Linked DNA regions of Homo sapiens. The protein of the gene in region 2 purifies or fractionates together with the protein of the main gene of each other region. This does not show direct contact. Each region holds a gene or a part of one and is shown on either strand. Other genes may lie near its edges. The genes, in order: NUB1 and LCN8.

The links.
Region 1: the proteins of LCN8 (region 2) and NUB1 purify together in Homo sapiens (affinity purification with mass spectrometry; one large-scale study listed by BioGRID and IntAct). This does not show direct contact.

What each region holds. Positions count from the first base shown.
Region 1 is NC_000007.14:151,351,787-151,355,592, reverse strand, and holds part of NUB1 (NEDD8 ultimate buster 1), read right to left. Parts: intron 3,627-3,806; exon of another isoform or gene 3,400-3,626; intron 2,782-3,399; coding exon 2,711-2,781; intron 1-2,710. UniProt on the Homo sapiens protein: Specific down-regulator of the NEDD8 conjugation system. Recruits NEDD8, UBD, and their conjugates to the proteasome for degradation. Isoform 1 promotes the degradation of NEDD8 more efficiently than isoform 2.
Region 2 is NC_000009.12:136,755,420-136,759,799, forward strand, and holds the start of LCN8 (epididymal-specific lipocalin-8), read right to left. Parts: upstream 2,825-4,380; 5' UTR 2,512-2,824; coding exon 2,488-2,511; intron 1,750-2,487; coding exon 1,619-1,749; intron 1,174-1,618; coding exon 1,103-1,173; intron 1,034-1,102; exon of another isoform or gene 98-1,033; coding exon 1-97. UniProt on the Homo sapiens protein: May play a role in male fertility. May act as a retinoid carrier protein within the epididymis.

The DNA.
Region 1 (3,806 bases), on a different chromosome or scaffold from region 2:
CAAGCAAGTCTTGCACCTCAGCCTCCCGAGGAGCTGGGACTACAGGCCCATGCCATCACACCCAGTTAATTTTTGTATTTTTCGCAGTGATGGAGTCTCACTATGTTGCCCAGCTTGTCTTGAACTCCTGGGCTCAAGTGATCCTCCCACCTCAGCCTCACAAAGTGCTGGGTTACAGACATCAGGCCTTGCTCCTGGACAAAATGGAATTCTTAATCCTGCATACCATCACGCCACATAATTGGTAAAAATATGCCTACATTTGGTTGTAACTATGTCACTGTTAAGCAGTGGTTAAAATCAGCTAGCGACAATAGAATCAACTAAATTCATCTTTTCTAATCTTCTTTATTCTCAGCCTAAGACCAGATCAAAGCAACAGATATTTGATAATCTACTACAGGGAGAACATTGTGCTAGACAATATAAACGGAAAATGAGAAAGTATAACACACCTCTCCTACCCTCTAGTTGAAAAAATAATAAAGCCAATTCACAGCTACAAACAAGAAGCTGTACTGCAGTCTGTCACGGTTAAAAGCAAAGACCAGCAGGGCGTGGTGGTTCACACCTGTAATCTCAGTACTTTGGCAGGCTGAGGCAGGTGGATCACTTGAGCCCCGGAGTTCAAGATCAGCCTGGGCAACACAGTGGACCCCGTCTCCACAGAAAATAAAACATTAGCCTGGCATGGTGGTATGCACCTGTGGTCCTAGCTACTCAGTGGGAAGCTGAGGTGGGAGGATTGCTTGCACCTGGGAGGTGGAGGCTGCAGTGAGCTGCAATCGCACACCACACTCCAGCCTGGGTGACAGATAGAGACCCTATCTCTAAATAAATAAATAAAAGCAAAGACCATGGGCTCCATCTACCGTTTTAACTCTGTGGCCCTGAATAAACTACCTATCTTCTAGGACTCAGTTTCCTCATACATAAATTAGAAATAAAGGGCAGAAATCAGTGAAACAGAATGAAAGAAAACAGTAACAAAATCAAAAGCTGGCTCCATGAATAAATTAGCCAAATACACAAATCTAACAAAAATTATGTCAAAGATGCAAATAAACAAAATAAAAAAGGGTAAACATAGATGCAAACAGATTTTAAAATAACAAATAATATTGTGAACTAAAAAACACAAATGTGAACACATTTCTGGAAAACTAGCTGGATTTTTTTCTTTTGAGAAATATGACAACCTTTCTAACATTAACACACAAAATAAAGGTCCACCAGTGGTTAAGCCATCTTGATTAAAAAAAAAAAAAAAGCAAGGGTGGGGGGAGGTCACCAGATTTTAAGACTGCAACAAAGCCACAGTAATAAAAAACACCACAGGTGAGTAGGAAGAACAGAAAATATAGGAACAGGGCCCCCCAAAAAGGGTCACCACCAATCAGCAGGGAAAAGACAGACTATTTAATGAATTATATAGGAAGAAAAATAAAGGAACCCTTAAACTTTATATAGAAAGGGGGACTCTGGACAGACTGAAGACCTCTTATAGATTAAGCTAATATTCAAGAAAATGTAGACTATCCTTGTGGCCCTGGGGTTAGGGAAAGGACTTCAACAAAACACAAACCATAGGCAATGGATTTGATGACATCAAAATCAAGGTTTCTGTCCAATGAAGGATGCCACAAACAGAATTAACAGAGGGATGAGGCAACAGTGAAAAGATATCCATGACATCTAAAATAGACAATGGGAAATTGCTAGAGATGACGCTGGAAAGCAAGGCTAGGGTGAGCTGTGAAGGGCTGTCTTAGATCAAGCTAAGAAATGTGGACTTCATTCTCGAGGCCACAGGAACGCACTGGAAACCAGTGGGCTACAGTGCTTGTATGGATGGCTGCAGTAGCTAACTGGTCTCCCCAAGTCAACTCATGCCACCTTCAAATACATTCCCCTACTGCGTGACCTTTCTAAAACACAAACAGAATTGTGTATCACTCCGCAGCACAGATGTCTTCCCATGTATCTTAGGAGAAATGTACTAACACTGAGGAAGGTCATCTAGTTTCTCGTTTCCCAACAGCTGCGCTACTGACATCTGGGACTGGACAAGTCTTTGTTGTGGGGCCTGTTCTGGGCATTGCACATTCAGCAGCATCCCTAGCCTCCACCCACTAAATGACAGCAGCACAACCTCCCCCGTCACCAAGTTATAAGCACCACAAATGTCTCCAGACAATGCCAAATGTCTCCTGGGAATTCACAGTGTGGCCTCTGCTTGCCCCTCCATCCTTAAAAAGCACTCCCCTCCCCTCATTCTCCACACACAGCCACACTGGACCTTCCTCAGTTCCTCAAATTCACACCATAGTGCTCTGACATAAGGCTCTCAGTCTGGAACGCACGCCACCATGGCCTCCCCACTGTCCTGACACAGCCTTAGCTCTTCTCCTTCAAGAAGAATTTGCTGGAACTGGCATCTTACACTCAGCACACCTTACATTCCATTCTCTAACATTTTATCTAAGCTGTAATGAGTGTCTTTCTTCCCACTATCATAGAACAGACAGTAAATATTTATTGGAAAAGCTATTTTCTGCTTTACATTTTTATTTTAGTAAACTTCTAAATCACTTTTGGATTATAAATGAAATAAAGCTACAAATTTTTGAAAAGACATTGAGAAAAAAAGGGAAGTCATTATTTCTATATTTGGTTCATTAAAAAATTATGCATACTTTGCCATACATACCTAGTTGTAGTTGCTTCTTATTTATGACAATTTTGATATAATTTTCTTGAAGTCCAAAGGTTTCAGCTATTCTGTAAAATAAAACCAGTGAAAATTGTAGGAAAACAAAATTGCGATTTATTATCCATTAAAAAGACATTAGCCAGGCCCGGTGGCTCACGCCTGTAATCCCAACACCCTGGGAGGCCAAGGTGGGAGGATGGCTTGAGCCCAGGAATTCAAGACCAGCCTGGGCAACAGAGAGATCCTATCTCTACAAAAAATTTTTAAAAATTAGCCAGGCCTGGTAGCCCATGCCTGTGGCCCTAGCTGCTTGGGAGGTTTGGGTAGGAGGATTGCTTGAACCGCGAGTTTGAGGTTGCAATGAGCTATATTTATGCCACTGTGCTTCAGCTTGGGTGACAGAGCAAGATCCTGTCTCTAAAAAATAAATATTTTTTAAAAGAAGGCTTTAATCATGATAGCTCTTTTATCCATTTTATCAGAAACACCCAGGATTTCAACTGACTGACTCACAAACATCACAATAAAGCCATCTTACTAGACGGCTATTTGAAACTGTAGGAGACAAGGTCCTTTTTAAACTTTCCGTTTTACTGCTTGTTTCCTCAGGCAGTGGAGACCACAGTGCTGTAGATCCATGTGAACAGGAAGCCCTAGTTGCACATCCGGAGAAAATCTACCTATACCTTCTGTGGTCTCCCTGGAGAAGCCCATAGCGGGGGCTGATCCACAGGGTCTTCTACGCATGTGTGTTGCATGCCACTTCCTGAATCCACCCCTGACAGCCCTGATGTAGACCAAAGAAGGAAATGAGAAAAATCAGCTGAAGAAATACACCCGCTAGCTAGCCCTGGAGGTGCTCCAAACACCATTTTAAAACATACAAGGAGATGAAATAACCCACCAGATCTCAAAGTTAGGATTTCACTAGTATGTGGCAAACGTGTGTGTGTGTGTGTGTGTTTTACAGATGGGCCAACAGCCTGAAATCAGATAAAACACCGTGCTGAAGGTCATAGCAAGCTATTAATACATTAGGGAAAAAAAATAGTAATTCAAAACTAATGAGCTAGTGAGTACCAGGTGTCTCCTG
Region 2 (4,380 bases):
TTGAGGACGCGAAAGTTCCTGCCCCGCCACATCAGGGACACCCGCAGGATGGCGTAGCCCTCGTAGTCGGTGTCCAGCACGTGGATCTCTCTGTGGCCTTCAAGAGCCGGCCATGGCGTTGGGGGAGACGTCTGAGGGGGACGGACCTCGAAGGCCAGGGTCTGCAGGGTCTAACTCCATCCTGCCCCCACCCAGTCCCAGCACTTGAGTGGTTGGAGACACTACAGAAGCTTTTGAAGGATGATCCAGTGTGTTGGTGGGAGAATGGGAAGGTCTGGGGCATGAAATGTGCAGGGAACAGCATGGGGAACAGTGCAGGGAACCCTGCAGGGAACAGCATGGGGAACGGTGCAGGAAACAGCATGGGGAACAGTGCAGGGAACAGCATGGGGAACAGTGCAGGGAACAGTGCAGGGAATGCATGGGGAACGGCACAGAGAAAAGTGCAGGGAACAGCATGGGGAATAGTGCAGGGAGCAGTGCGGGGAACAGTGCAGGGAGCATTGCAGGGAACAGCATGGGGAACAGTGCAGGGAACAGTGCAGGGAATGCATGGGGAACGGCACAGAGAAAAGTGCAGGGAACAGCATGGGGAATAGTGCAGGAAACAGCATGGGGAACAGTGCAGGGAGCAGTGCGGGGAACAGTGCAGGGAGCATTGCAGGGAACAGCATGGGGAACAGTGCAGGGAACAGCATGGGGAACAGCGCAGGGAACAGCATGTGGAACAGCGCAGGGAACAGCATGAGGAACAGTGCAGGGAACAGCATGGGGAACAGCGCAGGGAACAGCATGGGGAACAGTGCAGGGAACAGTGCAGGGAACGCATGGGGAATGGCGCAGAGAAAAGTGCAGGGAACAGCATGGGGAATAGTGCAGGAAACAGCATGTGGAACAGTGCAGGGAGCAGTGCAGGGAACAACATGGGGAACAGCACAGGGAATAGTTCAGGGAACAGCATGGGGAACAGTGCAGGGAACAGCACAGAGAACAGTGCAGGGAACAGCATGGGGAACAGTGCAGGGAACAGCATGGGGAACAATAAGGCCTAGCTGTGTGCACAGCCGGGTTCCACCTGCCATCACAGGGCAACTGCACTTACCAGGAAAAGCGAATTTTCCCGTACTGTCTATTTCTGAGCCCACGATCTTCTCTATCTCACAGCTTCCTGAGCTGAAAGGCAGCAAAGTGCCCATCGGTAAAATGCTAGCCTGTGTCCCGCCTGCTGGGCTCCTTCCCGGAGTGGGGCTGTGTCTTTAGGAAGGGCACAGGCAGCACTGTGGAGTATCCCAGGCCTGGAGCAGGATGAGGCGGGGAATGTGCCAGGTGGGGCCTTCCCCTGGGGATTCTGTTCCCTCCAGCCAGTCACCTGTCCCACACCCCTTTTCCTTCCTTCTAAGTTCACGGGGCTTCATTAAAACACTATGCTTATATTTGGGATAAAATGCAGATCCAGGAGCCTGGGGGTCGAGGGCTCAGGCAGACGGGCACCGGGAGTGCTGGCCCACCAGCGGGACGGCACTCAGCCCAGACCCCACGCTGCAGCGGGTGCAGCAACCCACGCCCAGTCCCCGGCCATGCATGCCTCTTCCTCTCCAGCAGCCCCCAGGCCTCTTACCTGTTATATGCAACCTTCACGGTCAGGTTACTCCCGCTCAAGGTGAGGAACAAGCCCTCCACCCGCTTCGGGGCCGTCAGCACCAGGCTTTGATCGGAGGCCACACCGACTTCCCTCCAGAATCCTCCAATCTAGAGAGATACGGAGCCTGGCCAAGAGCTGAGCAGTGGGTCTGAGACCCCCAGGGGCATTCCACGAACCCCCGGGCAGGGGCCTGCTGGGCTCTGAGAGGTCAGCAGATGGCTGTGAGGCTCGGTGGCAAAGCAGCAAGACATCTGTGAGCCCACTGTCCCCAGGCATGTGTCCCTCCAAGCGGTGCCTTCAGGCCATCAGACAGCAATGCCCACAGGGCAGCCCCTCCCCACTGGGCCATCTAGAGCTGCGGAACAGTCCCTAGGGCTTCTGCGACATGTCGGGAGGAACCACAGGCCCTGCCTGACCTCGGAGGCAGGACCCAGGAGCAGAGGCCTGGAAAAGAAAGCCCGCAGGGCGCGGCGGAGTGAGAAACGCCAGAGAACAGGTGGCTCGGGTAGCGCAGCTCGCCAGCCTGCCAACCACGCCAGAGGATGGGCCTCCTGCCCTCAGCAACCCGCCCAGAGCCGGGACTTCCGCTGAGACTTTTAAAAACCCTACCATTTTCGGGAGGAAAGAATCTTCGTCTCCGGCATCTACCTTCTCTGGGCCTGCTAATGTGCCTCTGGCCCAGCAGCCGGCACAGACTCAGCGGAGAAGAAAATGCCGCTAACAGGAAGTGTCTAGCCGGGCACCAGCGTCCCCACGAGCTCCCCACACCGGGAGAGGCCTCCTTCCCTGAGCCTGAGGGGTTGGGGGTGTAGGAGGAGCCCCACCAACTAAGAAGGAGAAGCCACCTTCTGCCGGTCCAGCTCCTCCATGGCTGCTGCCACCTGCGCCCGGAGCACCACGAGGACACCCAGGATGGTGCACGGCAGCCTGGCCTCCGTGGCGGGGTCCGGGCTCCGGGTTCCCCTGCTGCACAGCCTGGGCCGATTCTATACGGACAGTGCAGGCTTGTGCGCCCACCCGGGAATGTCATCAGGACAGCTTGGCTGCTGGCAGCTCAGAGACGTGGGTTTCTGCACAAGCGCCATCGGCCCTGGTGACACCCACGCCCACCGCAGGGGTTAGCCTGGCCTAGACAGCAGCCTGCCCAGCCACCCTCCTGGCATATGGACAGCGGTGGACGCTGCTGGGGCCGTCTCGGAGCCTGAGAGGAAGAGGAGCTCCACCCACACCACCTGGGGCTCGGTGACCCCCACCCCACATGACACTTGTTTTTTTGGGCTCGTTCTGGCCTGCGCTGCGAGGGCTGTGGGCACTGATGGGCAACGGACCAGAGCCTCCAGCACTTTCCTGTGCCACCCCACGCCTGGCCCTTTGAAATGTGTGCCAGACGCAGTGGGCAGTCAGAGCTCCGGAGGCCGGAGGCACAGCGCCAGCGACCAGAGTGACAGTGACAGTGGGGAGGGCCTCTGCTGCACCAGGCATCACCACCCGGGGGCAGTGTGGAGCCCGGCCCTGGAGCCTGATCACCCAGGCTTGCAGCCCGCCTGGCCTCTTCCTGGCTGTGCAGCCTTGGATAAGTTACCCAACCCTTCTGTGCCTCGGTTTCTTGATTTTTTTTTTCTTTTTTTTTTTTTCCTGAGACAGAGTCTTGCTCCATCGCCCAGGCTGGAGTGCAGTGGCACAATCTCAGCTCACTGCAGCCTCTGCCTCCTGGGTTCAAGCGATTCTCCTGCCTCAGCCTCCTGAGTAGCTGGGACTACAGGTGTGCGCCACCACGCCCGGTTAAGTCTTGTATTTTTAGTAGGGACGGGGTTTTGCCATGTTGGCCAGGCTGGTCTCAAACTCCTGGCCTCAAGTGATCCACCCGCCTCGGCCTCCCAAAGTGCTGGGATTACAGGCATGAGCCACCGCGCCAGGCCAGTTTCCTGATCTTTGAAATGAGGAGTACGCTGGGTAGCTACCTATGTCTGTGGGTCTGCTGTGGAGCGCTCAGGCTGGCTGGCAGTCCCCTGGCCACAACGGTGACCCATTTCCAGGGGTGTAAACCAGGTGCCCACGATCATATCAGTGGTGAGGGGCAAAACCCAAGTGGGCCTAACTCCCCGGCCTCCTGCAGCTCCCCCAGCTCCCCCCCCGGCACCGGGGCCTGTGTGCCCAGCACAGCCCCAGTGGCCGGGCCGTCTTCACAGGGTGCCCAGTTCCCCACAGCACTGCAGACCCATAGGGACTGGGCCAGGATGCTCCATTCTTCCTGTGGGTGCAGCCCCCACACAGGCCAAGAGTGGCTGCTGCCTCCTGCCCCTCCCCAGGGCCCCTCACCCCTGTCCCCTGCCCCCTCACCCAGGGCCCTTCACCCCTGCCCCCTGCCCCTTCCCAGGGCCCCTCACCCCTGCCCCCTGCCCCTCCCCAGGGCCTCTCACCCCTGCCTCCTGCCCTCTCACCCCTGCGTCCTGCTCCCTCGGCCAGGGCCTTCTCACACTTGCCTCCCTGCCTCAGTCTCCCCAGCAGTGCTGGGGTCAGTCAGGGGCCCGCATTGCCCTCCCCCAGGGCATGTCCAAAGAGGTGAGGGCCATGAGGCTGCAGCATCTGTTTATTGAATAGAAAGAGACGTCCCACAAGGCATCCCACAGGCGGGGGGTGGAGGATGGAGAGACTCCAGGTGGTCCCCGAGGGCTGTGGGTCTTGACTCCAGGGGCAAAGGCGCCTGCTGCTTTGGCTCCACCTGCGTAGAAAACGCA